Homo sapiens: one gene and its partners. The protein of the gene in region 1 purifies or fractionates together with the protein of each later gene. This does not show direct contact. Each region holds a gene or a part of one and is shown in the gene's direction. Other genes may lie near its edges.

What was found.
Region 2: the proteins of HACD3 (region 1) and SLC25A13 fractionate together in Homo sapiens (co-fractionation; one large-scale study listed by BioGRID). This does not show direct contact.
Region 3: the proteins of HACD3 (region 1) and ARMC9 purify together in Homo sapiens (co-immunoprecipitation; one large-scale study listed by IntAct). This does not show direct contact.

Annotation. Positions count from the first base shown.
Region 1 is NC_000015.10:65,557,841-65,561,490, forward strand, and holds part of HACD3 (very-long-chain (3R)-3-hydroxyacyl-CoA dehydratase 3), read left to right. Parts: intron 1-839; coding exon 840-891; intron 892-3,650. UniProt on the Homo sapiens protein: Catalyzes the third of the four reactions of the long-chain fatty acids elongation cycle. This endoplasmic reticulum-bound enzymatic process, allows the addition of two carbons to the chain of long- and very long-chain fatty acids/VLCFAs per cycle.
Region 2 is NC_000007.14:96,182,506-96,186,155, reverse strand, and holds part of SLC25A13 (electrogenic aspartate/glutamate antiporter SLC25A13, mitochondrial), read left to right. Parts: intron 1-1,141; coding exon of another isoform or gene 1,142-1,144; coding exon 1,145-1,229; intron 1,230-1,720; coding exon 1,721-1,879; intron 1,880-3,650. UniProt on the Homo sapiens protein: Mitochondrial electrogenic aspartate/glutamate antiporter that favors efflux of aspartate and entry of glutamate and proton within the mitochondria as part of the malate-aspartate shuttle.
Region 3 is NC_000002.12:231,201,567-231,205,216, forward strand, and holds part of ARMC9 (lisH domain-containing protein ARMC9), read left to right. Parts: intron 1-3,650. UniProt on the Homo sapiens protein: Involved in ciliogenesis. It is required for appropriate acetylation and polyglutamylation of ciliary microtubules, and regulation of cilium length. Acts as a positive regulator of hedgehog (Hh)signaling.

The DNA of each region.
Region 1 (3,650 bases):
CAGCTTTGGCACTAACTGGCCTTTGGTTATGTCCTCATCCTGCCCATCTTTCATTTGGCTTTTGTATCTTTTTGAGAAAGCGCCATCATTATGGGACTGTTTTTTTTTTTTTTTTTGAGCACTTCCTTACTTTCTGGCAGTATAAGCTGCTCCAGGCTTATCTTGCATGTATGTTTCCTGCTCCAGCCCTGGAACAGCCATTTCTTCAAGCATCTCTGTTCTTATTGTGGAATAGCATTGGAAACCAAGATCTGGGTGCCGGGTATGCTCATTGCTACCAGGTTGCCATTGCCTTTAAGTTCTCTTCACTGACAGAACAAGAAAATATATGTTTGGATAGTAACCCATGCATACACATACACCTGTAAATATTTCTGTATGGATCCATCTGTATCTCTGTTAAGCTAAACGTGAGTTCATAGTGATGTTGGAAACATGATCTTAGCTTCTGGAAAAATTATACTAAAATTCTAGAAGTCTTGAAAAATAAAATAGCAGTCTACCTCCTGCCTTAAACTTCTGTTTTATTTCTCTGACTGCGACAGATCTTCTGGATGTCCTTTCCAGCTTTAAGATTCCAAGGTCACTTGTCAGTTTGGAAGCCAGCTCACTGGGTTAATTTTGTGAACAATGGATGGGCACCTGTGATGCTAATGCTGCTTAGTAAGCAGGAGTCAGGCGTTTGGCCCTATGACCTAGAATATTCTCCCAATGATGCACTGACCCCAACTGGAGGAGTTGGCTTTGAGGGAGTCAGATTACTCAGCCAGCATATGGACTTTTGCAAGCATCTGGGAATTCTAACTTGTGTTCTTGGAAAACTTTTGTCTAAATTCTAGGAAGAAGAGCGCCTAAATAAACTCCGACTGGAAAGCGAAGGCTCTCCTGAAAGTAAGTTGTGCTGCTGCCATGGTAGTTACCAGTTAACTTGTGCTAGTGTTGGAAGTATGGATAATTGTGATGTGGCAGGAGAGCTAATGATTTCATCCCGGTGAGCTGTGTGGGTGAGTTTATGAAAAAGCTTTTAGGTCCAGTGCTTAAGGTCTGCACTACCCACGTCAGAATCCTTACCTTTAATGTGTCCTTTGTGTTTTGGTTGTTATTTCATGAGTACACCAAGGCTAGTGTAGCAGAATGAAAGAACTCCTGGACTGGCCTCATGGCAGATGGCAACCAAATCCTGCAGAGACTTGTGGAAATGATTGCATGGATCCAAGGCTACACTCCTTCAGCCTGGTGTTTTTCTCCCAGCTGAAATCTCAAAGGCTGTATGATACATAAGTGTGGTTGTCAGCCTGAAAGATGGAGAGTATTCTGTGTAGTCCTGCTATTCATTAACCTTTAACAAATCAATTTCTGTTTCCGTCTAACCACTTTAAGCAGGAAGCTCTGTAAGTGTATTATCTTCTGGGTGATGTAGTTAGATTAAATTCAGCAGCTATCTGTTAAAGTCATGCTGTGTGGCAAGCATTGTGCTGGGCCCTTGACTAAGAGCCAGAGGGATCCATCGTAGCGCCTATACTCAAAAGGGCTTACATTCTTAGTGAGGGAACTGCAGGTGTATGTAAAACTACCTCTGAAAAGCAGAATGAAATAAGTCCTTCTTACTTGTTCTAAGTTGAAATTTTTCAAATTTTAGTGGTACTTATCTAGCATGCCATAAATAAGGGAGGGGAAAGTTTTGGAGCAGTAGTTTTCAAACTGTGTTCCATGGTGCCCCAGGGGGTTCCCAGAGATGCTTTGGAGGAGTAGATCACACAAACAGGTCTACCTCAGTCAGAGCAGCTCTCTTTTGAGTGTTATGTGTTGGCATTCCGAATAAGGTTTCTTTTGAGAAGGAATTTTAAAAAATATTTGAATAGCGACTACCTTAGGGGAATATTCTTTCAGGAAAGCCGAGGAGGGGAGAGGTTCAGTGGAGGCAAAGAATAACAACATAAAAAAGCCACTTTGAGATTTAAATTAATGTTTTGGTGTCTTAAAGGGATAAACTTCAAAAATAGATAAAAATTCTAATATATGGATTTTTTGGGTGTTAGGTAAAGCTTTAACTGTTTTACCTAAATTCATAAAGTTTTCTGAACAAGGAAGTTCTTTATGGTGGGGAAGTGTAATAGATTTTTGTAGTTTTGAAGAAATAACTTTTAATTAGCTAAATGTTGCTAGAAGTCTGACATTTTTTGGAGTCTTAGGATAAGGCTGTGTTGTTTTTTTTTTTTTGAGATGGGGTCTTGCTATGCTGTCCAGGCTGATCTTAAGATACTGGGCTCAAGTGATCCTTCTACCTCAGCCTCCCAAGTAGCTGGGATTACAGGCATATGCCACTGTGCCTGGCTTAGGCTGCTTTTGATTGACCACATTATTAAATGTGATTATTTGAGGACCAACCAGATGTCTTTGCAGAATATCTGTAGCCTAGGAATAAATATGTAGCAGCAAAATCTGAACACCATAGATCTCCTCTTAAGAACTGTCCTTTTCTTTACCCTACTCCTTTGACTCAACAATGACTCTGTCAAAGCCTCTTGTTTCTTCCTTTACTCTGTAATTGGCTGTATCTTCATGAATCTTAGGCTGCAGATAAAATTAATGTCCCTTATTTTCCTGCATGTTGGTTTGAAATTGTCCTGCTTTGGTTATGTCCTCAGTCTGCCCATCTTTCAAAGCCCAGATCAGGCCAAGTATGATGGCTCATGCCTCTAATCCCAGCACTTTGGGAGACTGAGGCGGGAGGATCTTTTAGGCCAGGAGTTCGAGATCAGACTGGGCAACGTAGCAAGACTGTGTTTCTACAAAACATAATGGAATATAAAATTAGCAAGGTGTGGTGGCACAGACCTGTAGAACTAACTACTTGGGCGGTGAGGTGGGAGGATGGGTTGACTCCAGGAGGTCAGGGCTGCAGAGAGCTATGGTCCCACCACTGCATTCTAACCTGGGAACAGAGTGAGACCCTATCTCAAAAAAAAAAAAAAAAAAGCCCGGATTAGATACCAGCTTTATCCATGTAGACTAGCTTGATGCCTACTTCTCCAGCCTAATGTCGTTTTTTCACCTTGAAAGTTTCACAAGACATTACTTGTTACTCCCCACCTGGTATTACAGTTTTTAGATTGTAAGCTCTGAGGGCAGCCTTGAACTACCTTTGTATCCCAGTAGTTCTTCTCACAGTACCTTGCACATTGTAGGTATTCAGTTAATGCTTGGTTGAGTGAATATATAACCAAATATCAGGGTTGTTTTTTTCATTTACTGTATCTGTCTCTTTGAGCTAGTTTGACCTCAGTGACCTTAAAGAAATTCCAGAAAAGAAGAAACTATGGATTATATTAAGATGACTGGAGGGCCAGGCACGGTGGCTCATGCCTGTAATCCCAGCACTTTGGGAGGCCAAGGTGGGCAGATCACCTGAGGTTAGGAGTTTAAGACCACCCTGGCCAACATGATGAAACCCTGTCTCTGCTAAAATACAAAAATTAGCCGGGCGTGGTGGCGGAAGCCTGTAATCTCAGCTACTCGGGAGGCTGAGGCAGGAGAATTGCTTGAACCTGGGAGGTGGAGCGTGCAGTGAGCCGAGATTGTGCCACTGCACTCCAGCCTGGGTGACAGAGCAAGACTCTGTCTCAAAAAAAAAAGAAAAAAAAAATTGA
Region 2 (3,650 bases), on another chromosome or scaffold:
ACCCAGCCTATTCTAACTTCAGAGGTTATGTACATTTTAAGGGTTTGGGTGTATATTACTAAACATCTCTCTATTTATGCTTGCTTTAATGGCAAATTTCAGAAGGCTTGTTATCAACTTTTGCCAGGCTGGGTATTGCCACTTAAAACAAAAACAAAAATACATACAAACCAAAAACCTGCCAATTTGATTGATGAAAAATGATGTCTCATTGATGTTTTTATTTGCTTTATTTACTTTATTTTATTTTATTTTTTTGATACAGTCTCACTCTGTTGCCCAGGCTGGAGTGCAGTGGCGCGATCTCGGCTCACTGCAAGCTTCACCTCACGGGTTCACGCCATTCTCCTGCCTCAGCTTCCCAAGTAGCTGGGACTACAGGCGCCTGCCACCACACCCAGCTAATTTTTTTCTTTTTTTTGTATTTTTAGTAGAGACGGGGTTTCACCATGTTAGCCAGGATGGTCTCAATCTCCTGACCTCATGATCCACCCACCTCGGCCTCCTGAAGTGCTGGGATTACAGGCATGAGCCACCGTACCCGACCTATTTTTATTTTTGAGATAGAGTCTTGCTCTGTTGCCGAGGCTGAAGTGCAGTGGCGTGATCTCAGCTCACTGCAACCTCTGCCCCCTGGGCTCAAGTGATTCTCCCTCCTCAGCCTGAGTAGCTGAGACTACAGGCACATGCCACCATGCTGGTCTAATTTTTGTGTTATATTATAGAGATGGGCTTTCACCATGTTATCCAGGCTGGTCTTGAACTCCTGTGCTCAGGTAATCCGCCCGCCTCAGCCTCCCAAAGTGCTGGGATTACAGGCGTGAGCCACCGTGCCTGGCCTCAGTGATGTTTTTAACTGTGCATTTTTTTTAATGAGAATTTGAAAATAGGCTTATAACATCATTTTTGTCAAAGGATGGTTTTGATTATATTGAAATTTGGTTTTAAACATTAATAGCACTAAAATCTTTTTATTAATAAGAACTTATGAAATCCATTCCTACTTTTTTCCTTGACATTTTAGTTGTATCATGGATTTAGAACCCAATGAGTAATGTTTAAAGTTAATGTATGGTCATTTTTGTTTTATCTTCTTTTCTGTCACCTGTTTTCCTGCTCTCTGATTCCTGTGCATGCAAAGCAGAAGGCCTCAGGTGATTCAGCTCGACCAGTTCTTCTACAAGTTGCAGAGTCGGCCTACAGGTTTGGTCTGGGTTCTGTTGCTGGAGGTTAGTCATGGATGAGAGAAAAATTTTCACTTTTGTTATTCCTATTCTCTTTTCTCTGATTTTCCATCTTGAAATGTTAAAGGACAAAGTCTTCTCTAGTCTTTCCCAATGCCAGTTATCAGTTTCTACCTGTGAGGTAGGGCAAGAGTAAAGGGAACTCTTTTCCCATACCTGCATGTGATCAGGGACTTACAAGTGGCATTTTCCTCTATCTACAGATCAGGCCTTCCAAAGACAGGTTACTAATGAGGTTGGGCTGTAGCAATGTGCCTTAATTTAAAATATCTATGACATCCTTTTATTAGGGGATACTTGAATGAAAACCCTCAATTGTTTATTAAAGATATAAGAAAGGTAGTACTGTTTTAAAATCTGTATTTAAAATTCAAAACACATTTCTTTTCTCAGTCTTGTCCTTGACTTTAACTACCTTCTTCTTTCTTCTGACCTATCTTACTTTCTTCTGAGATAATGATATTGTTTAATTTTAGCTGTTGGAGCCACTGCTGTGTATCCTATCGATCTTGTAAAAACTCGAATGCAGAACCAACGATCAACTGGCTCTTTTGTGGGAGAACTCATGTATAAAAACAGCTTTGACTGTTTTAAGAAAGTGCTACGCTATGAAGGCTTCTTTGGACTGTATAGAGGTTAGTGCCACATGCTCAATACCTGTTAGGTGAAATAACACTCAAAGGTTTGGTTTCTCATCTTAGTGCCTGACATGAATTAGCAAGACTGCGTTAAAATGGAAATACAGCAGATTTTCAATTATCCATGCTAATGGGAGTAGGCTGGAGGCATCTAGGGCTTGGCTAATCAAAACAGCCCATAATCTGAAAATTATTTATAGTGCTCTGTTGTATGTTTTATTTCTTAAAATAATAAATTATTTTTATAAGCATCTTCCGTGAATTTTTGAAAGGCTCACATTGTTTGCATCCTTGAAGTACTCTATTCTCCAGCTAACAGGGAAAGGTATTCTGCCACCAGGACAAAGCCTACTCAGGATTCATGATTTTCCTGGAATACACCACAAAAAAGATAACGAAGGGTTCAGTAGAGCTCTCTTTTGCTGCTTCATCCTGAATTAAAGTTGCCCCTTTTCTTCATCTGACTCTCAACCCAATGGAGTTGATTCACACACCCCTCTAGCCAAGGTTTCCCCCCACTGAGACAGCCTGAAACAGGTAATCCTTCTTTCTCCACCTTTTCCTTTAACCATCTAAGGTTCATTAAGCAATGGAAGTAGTAGCAGAGAGTATGTCATCACTGATGGAAAGGATCCCACAGACCCTGACTGCTTTTCCACTGGCATTGGCCGAAGGAGACTTCTCAACTGTTCTTTCGGGGATTGCCTTCTACGAGAAGGAAACAGTGTTTCTGCATCAGTTAAAATACAGTATCACAAGGCAGTTCAAACTCAGCTGCTTTATAATTTGGCAGCGGCAAAGCTGGCAGAGTTTTCCCTCCTCTCCCCTACTAATGCTCTCTCTAGATGAAGAAAACAGTATTTAGTACTCTGCTGAGGTGGACGGTGAAACTGGCAGACATGGAAACCTGTGCCTCTGGGCCTCTTCTGCCATCTGCTGACTCTAGTCTTCAAATTAATTACCCCAGTTAAAAAAAACAAAAAGGATAAACCTTTCTTGAAACCTCTCACCTTAGAAGCCAGAAAGTCTCAAACTCCAGAGAAGTTCCATTTTGCAGGTCCTATTGTGTAGGTAGGTAGCCCCCATCAAAGGCCTTTTGATCTTTGCTCTGCCCTCTTTTCCTTATCCCCTGCCTCTTCTTACAATTTGGAAGGTCTTTGACCTCAGGTGATTGATGATGACCCTTTCAGGGTCACTGCCTTCCATTTGAAATGCTTTTCTTCCCTGATGGCAACAACTTTGCAAATGAAATGGCTTCCAAGTAGTACAAGGTTAATGTCACAGTTCCTATTCTGCAGTGAGTCAGGCAAAATTGGCCGCCTTACCTGTCCATATGGGTGGTTTTTGGAAGGGAAATCTCGAGTCTCAAGTCTGGGCAGACATCTGAGCATTGCTTCATAAACTACTTTTTGGGCTTTTCTTGGTATTAGATTAAATGTCAAGGATGCCTTTAGAATTGTAAGAATGCTTCCCAACACTGCTCAGTGTCTTTAATTTGCTTAAGTTGATTTTTTATTTTGAGTCCTTTTTTCTCGATCTTTGACCATACCTGGCAGGTCTGATTTTTGGTTACGTCTATATTTCCCTTTTGCAACCTGTACTGTTGGCAACTAGAAGTGTGCCTGAGTACTGAGTGCTGAGCTAATGTGGGCTATGCAAAGAGGCTTCCACTCTTGCCGTTTCAGTTCTTTTATCTGTAAGATGAGAGTGACTGCTTTTAACTTCTCAGAGGAGTAGTAAGTCAATATATTAGGTACAGACAGAGGCT
Region 3 (3,650 bases), on another chromosome or scaffold:
CACTCTCTGCCCACTCCTTTCCATCTTTCACACTCACTGGAATGTGCCTCCTTCAGCAGGTCTCAGACCCCACTGCTTCCTCACTGCTCTGCAGCCGCCTTATGTGTGTTCCCCTCCCCCATTCTTAACCTGATTAGTTCCAGTGTCCCATCGTGGTTGTACTGTTTTCCCTTTCCTCTCTCTTCTAGAAGAACCTCTCACATTGGTTAACCTAACTCAGATAGCTGAAAGTGCCTGGAGAAGAGCTGCAAAACTGTGCAGACTGATTCCATTTTAGATTCAAGTGCAGAGATCTTAAATGGACTATAATACCAGCAACCCTGCCATGTTGCTGTAGTCGCTTTGGTTCCCACCCTCCCTTCCGTTCCCACTCTCCCTTCTCTTCGAACTGTCACCATGCTTCTTACTTGCAGCCGATGACCTTTTTTCTTTCTTTCTTTTTTTTTTTTTTTTGACAGAGTCTCACTCTGTTGCCCAGGATGGAGTGCAATGGCACGATCTCGGCTCATTGCAACCTCCACTTCCTGGGTTCAAGCGATTCTCCTGCCTCAGCTTCCAGAGTAGCTGGGATTACAGGTGCCTGCCACCACACCCGGCTAATTTTTGTATTTTTAGTAGAGATGGGGTTTTACCATGCTGGTCAGGCTGGTCTTGAACTCCCAGCATCAGGCGATCTGCCTGCCTTGGCCTCCCAAAGTGCTGGGATTACAGGCGTGAGCCACCGTGCCCAGCTGATCTTGTTTCTTGTTTCACTTTTTTTTTTTTTTTTTTTTTGAGACAGGGTCTTACTTTGTCACCTAGGCTGGAGTGCCATGGCGTGATCCCGGCTCACTACAGCCTTGACCTTCCTGGTTCAAGTGATCCTCCTGTCTCATCCTCCCCAGTAGCTGGGATTACAGGCACACACCACCACACCCAGCTAATTTTTGTATTTCTGTAGAGATGAGGTTTCACCACGTTGCCCAGGCTGGTCTCGAACTCATGAGCTCAAGTGATCTGCCTGCCTTGGTGTCCCAAAGTGCCAAGATTACAGGTGTGAGCCACTGCACCCAGCCTGTTTCACTTCTAATCACTAAATCTGTGTCTTTGCTCAGCACCCATATTCTCTGCTATCCCTCTGAATGCCGTTCCTGCTTCTCCCTTAAACTCCAGGCTCATATATCTGTAAGAATTAAAGAAAGAGGAGAGAAACACGAAGGGTGACTTGACAGTCAACAGGTTTGTTTCCTGGGTAACGGCCAAACTTCACCCTCTTACAATGGGCCTCAGTATAACAGTGGGCCTTAATAAGGACATTCTGTTCCCTTCAGGTGCACTAAGGGAAGCTAAAAGCAGACTTGGGGGGTATGCCTGCAGCTGCAGAAAGTTGTATAGGAACAGACACACAACTCTCCCTCCCAGATAAGCACAACAGAGAGACACAGAAACAGTTCAAGCCTTTGATAAACTCTCCCACCCTGAATCCTTAAAAACTCTTAGTCTGTAGGAGAGTGTGGCTCTGACCTAACTCGGTCGGAAGTCCCTCCCAGGTTTGAAATAAACCTGTTGACTGTCGAGCCACCCTTCGTGTTTCTCTCCTCTCTCCTCTTTCTTTGGTTCTTACAATACCCACTGACCATTTCGGAACCTCCACTGGAATGTCTAACAGGCAGCTCAGACTTATAGCCAAAACAGAGCTCTTGGTTTGACCTCAAAACAGTCCTTCCCCAGGTTTTCGTTGACTCAGCAAATCACATACTCTTCGGCCAGCTGCTCAGATCCCAGGGTTCTTCCTTCCCTTCTTCCCCTCATGTCCCACAACTAACTGGTCTGCAGATTGTGCCTCTTCTGCCTTTTCCATCTGGACTCACAGCGCTCATGGCCCCTCTTGCTTATCCAAATGATGCTCATGGCTGGCGTGGCCTGAGCAGTACTCATCTCCCTCTTCCCACTCCCCTCCAGTCTTCTCTGTAGAGCAGGCAACATGCATATTAAAAAATGGACATCAGCAGCCGGGCGTGGTGGCTCACCCCTGTAATCCCAGCACTTTGGGAGGCAGAGGAGGGAGGATTGAGCCCAGGAGTTCAAGACCAGCCTGAGCAATGGTGAAATCCTGTCTCTGAAAAAACCAAGGCTGGGCGTGGTGGCTCATGCCTGTAATCCCAGCACTTTGGGAGGCCGAGGCAGGTGGATCACCTGAGGTCAGGAGTTCGAGACCAGCCTGGCCAACGTGGTAAAACCCCGTCTCTACTAAAAATACAAAAATTAGCTAGGCATGGTGGCGGGTGCCTGTAATCCCAGCTACTCGGGAGGCTGAAGCAGGAGAATTGCTGGAACCCCGGAGGTGGAGGTTGCAGTGAGCCAAGATTGTGCCATTCTACTCCAGCCCAAGCAACAACAGCGAGACTCTGTCTCAAAAACAAACAAACAAAAAAAAACCTCACCAAAAACCAAACAAATGAAAAAACCAGAAAACAAAAGACTTGGGGCATAGTGGCACACTCTGTAGGCCCAGCTACTCAGGAGGCTGAGGTGGGAGGACTGCTTGAGTCCAGGAGTTTGAGGCTGCAGTGAGCTATGATCATGTCACTGCACTCTAGCCTGGGCAACAGAGGGAAACTCTGTCTCAGGAAAAAAAAAAAAAAAAAAAAAGGACATCAGTGGTGTCAGTCCCCTCCTCCATACTCTCTCTGAGCCTCCTGTTACTGTCAGCCTAATGTCCAAGCCACTTACCAGCTCTGTAAGGCCCACCTGACCTGGCCCCGGCCCCCCATTGCCTGCTGCTGTCTGCCTCACCCCTAGCTACATCCCAATACCCCAAGACTGCAGAGCTCTTCAGCCTGAGGCCTGTGCACTAACAAAGCCATCTTCCCCAGATCCAGGTGCTCAATCTTTGCTGAAATGTCACATTCCCAGTGAGGCCATCAACCACTCTATCTAAAATAACCCCATACCCGTCTCCTTCAGGTTCTGTCCCTTTCCTTGCGCTGTTTTCTTCATGTCTGGAATCAATTTCCACTCCGTCCATGTTTTTGAGCCTGTACTGTGTGCCAGGCACTGGTCTAGGCACAGGGGAACACCTGTCAGGTGCTGTTGAGAAAAATCAAGCAGTACAAAGGGCTGAGAAGTGATGGGCCGACCTCTTAGAAAGGGTGGTCAGGGCAAGACTCTCTGAGGAGGTGACAGTTAGGCAGAGACCTGAATGAGACGTATCTGAAGGAAGGGCAGTGAGCCAGAGTTCACGAGGGCAGGCGTGTGCTTTGGGTGTTCAGTGGGTGTCCACAGGAACCACACAGTGGCCAGTGTGGCTCAGGTTTACAGAACAAATGGGAGTGTGTCAGAGGCCAAGTTGTCTAGGGCTTTGGGAGTTGAGCCTAAGGAGCCTGGCCTTCATCTGGAGGGCGCTGGAACCACAGGAGGGTCCCAAGCAGGAGGGGAATGCTCACTTGTTAAAAGTGTAGAAATTGGATTGAAGTGGAGAGAAAGGAGGTGGGGAGGCAGTGGCAGAAAAATGTAAGGTTACAGACTCAGAAGAGATCTGACTGAGTGTGGTGGCTCACGCCTATAATCCCAGCATTTTGGGAGGCCAAGGCGGGAGGATTGCATTACCCAGGAGTTTGGCAGCTTAGTAAGACCCTGTCTCCCTGTCTCTACTTAAAAAAAAAAAAAAA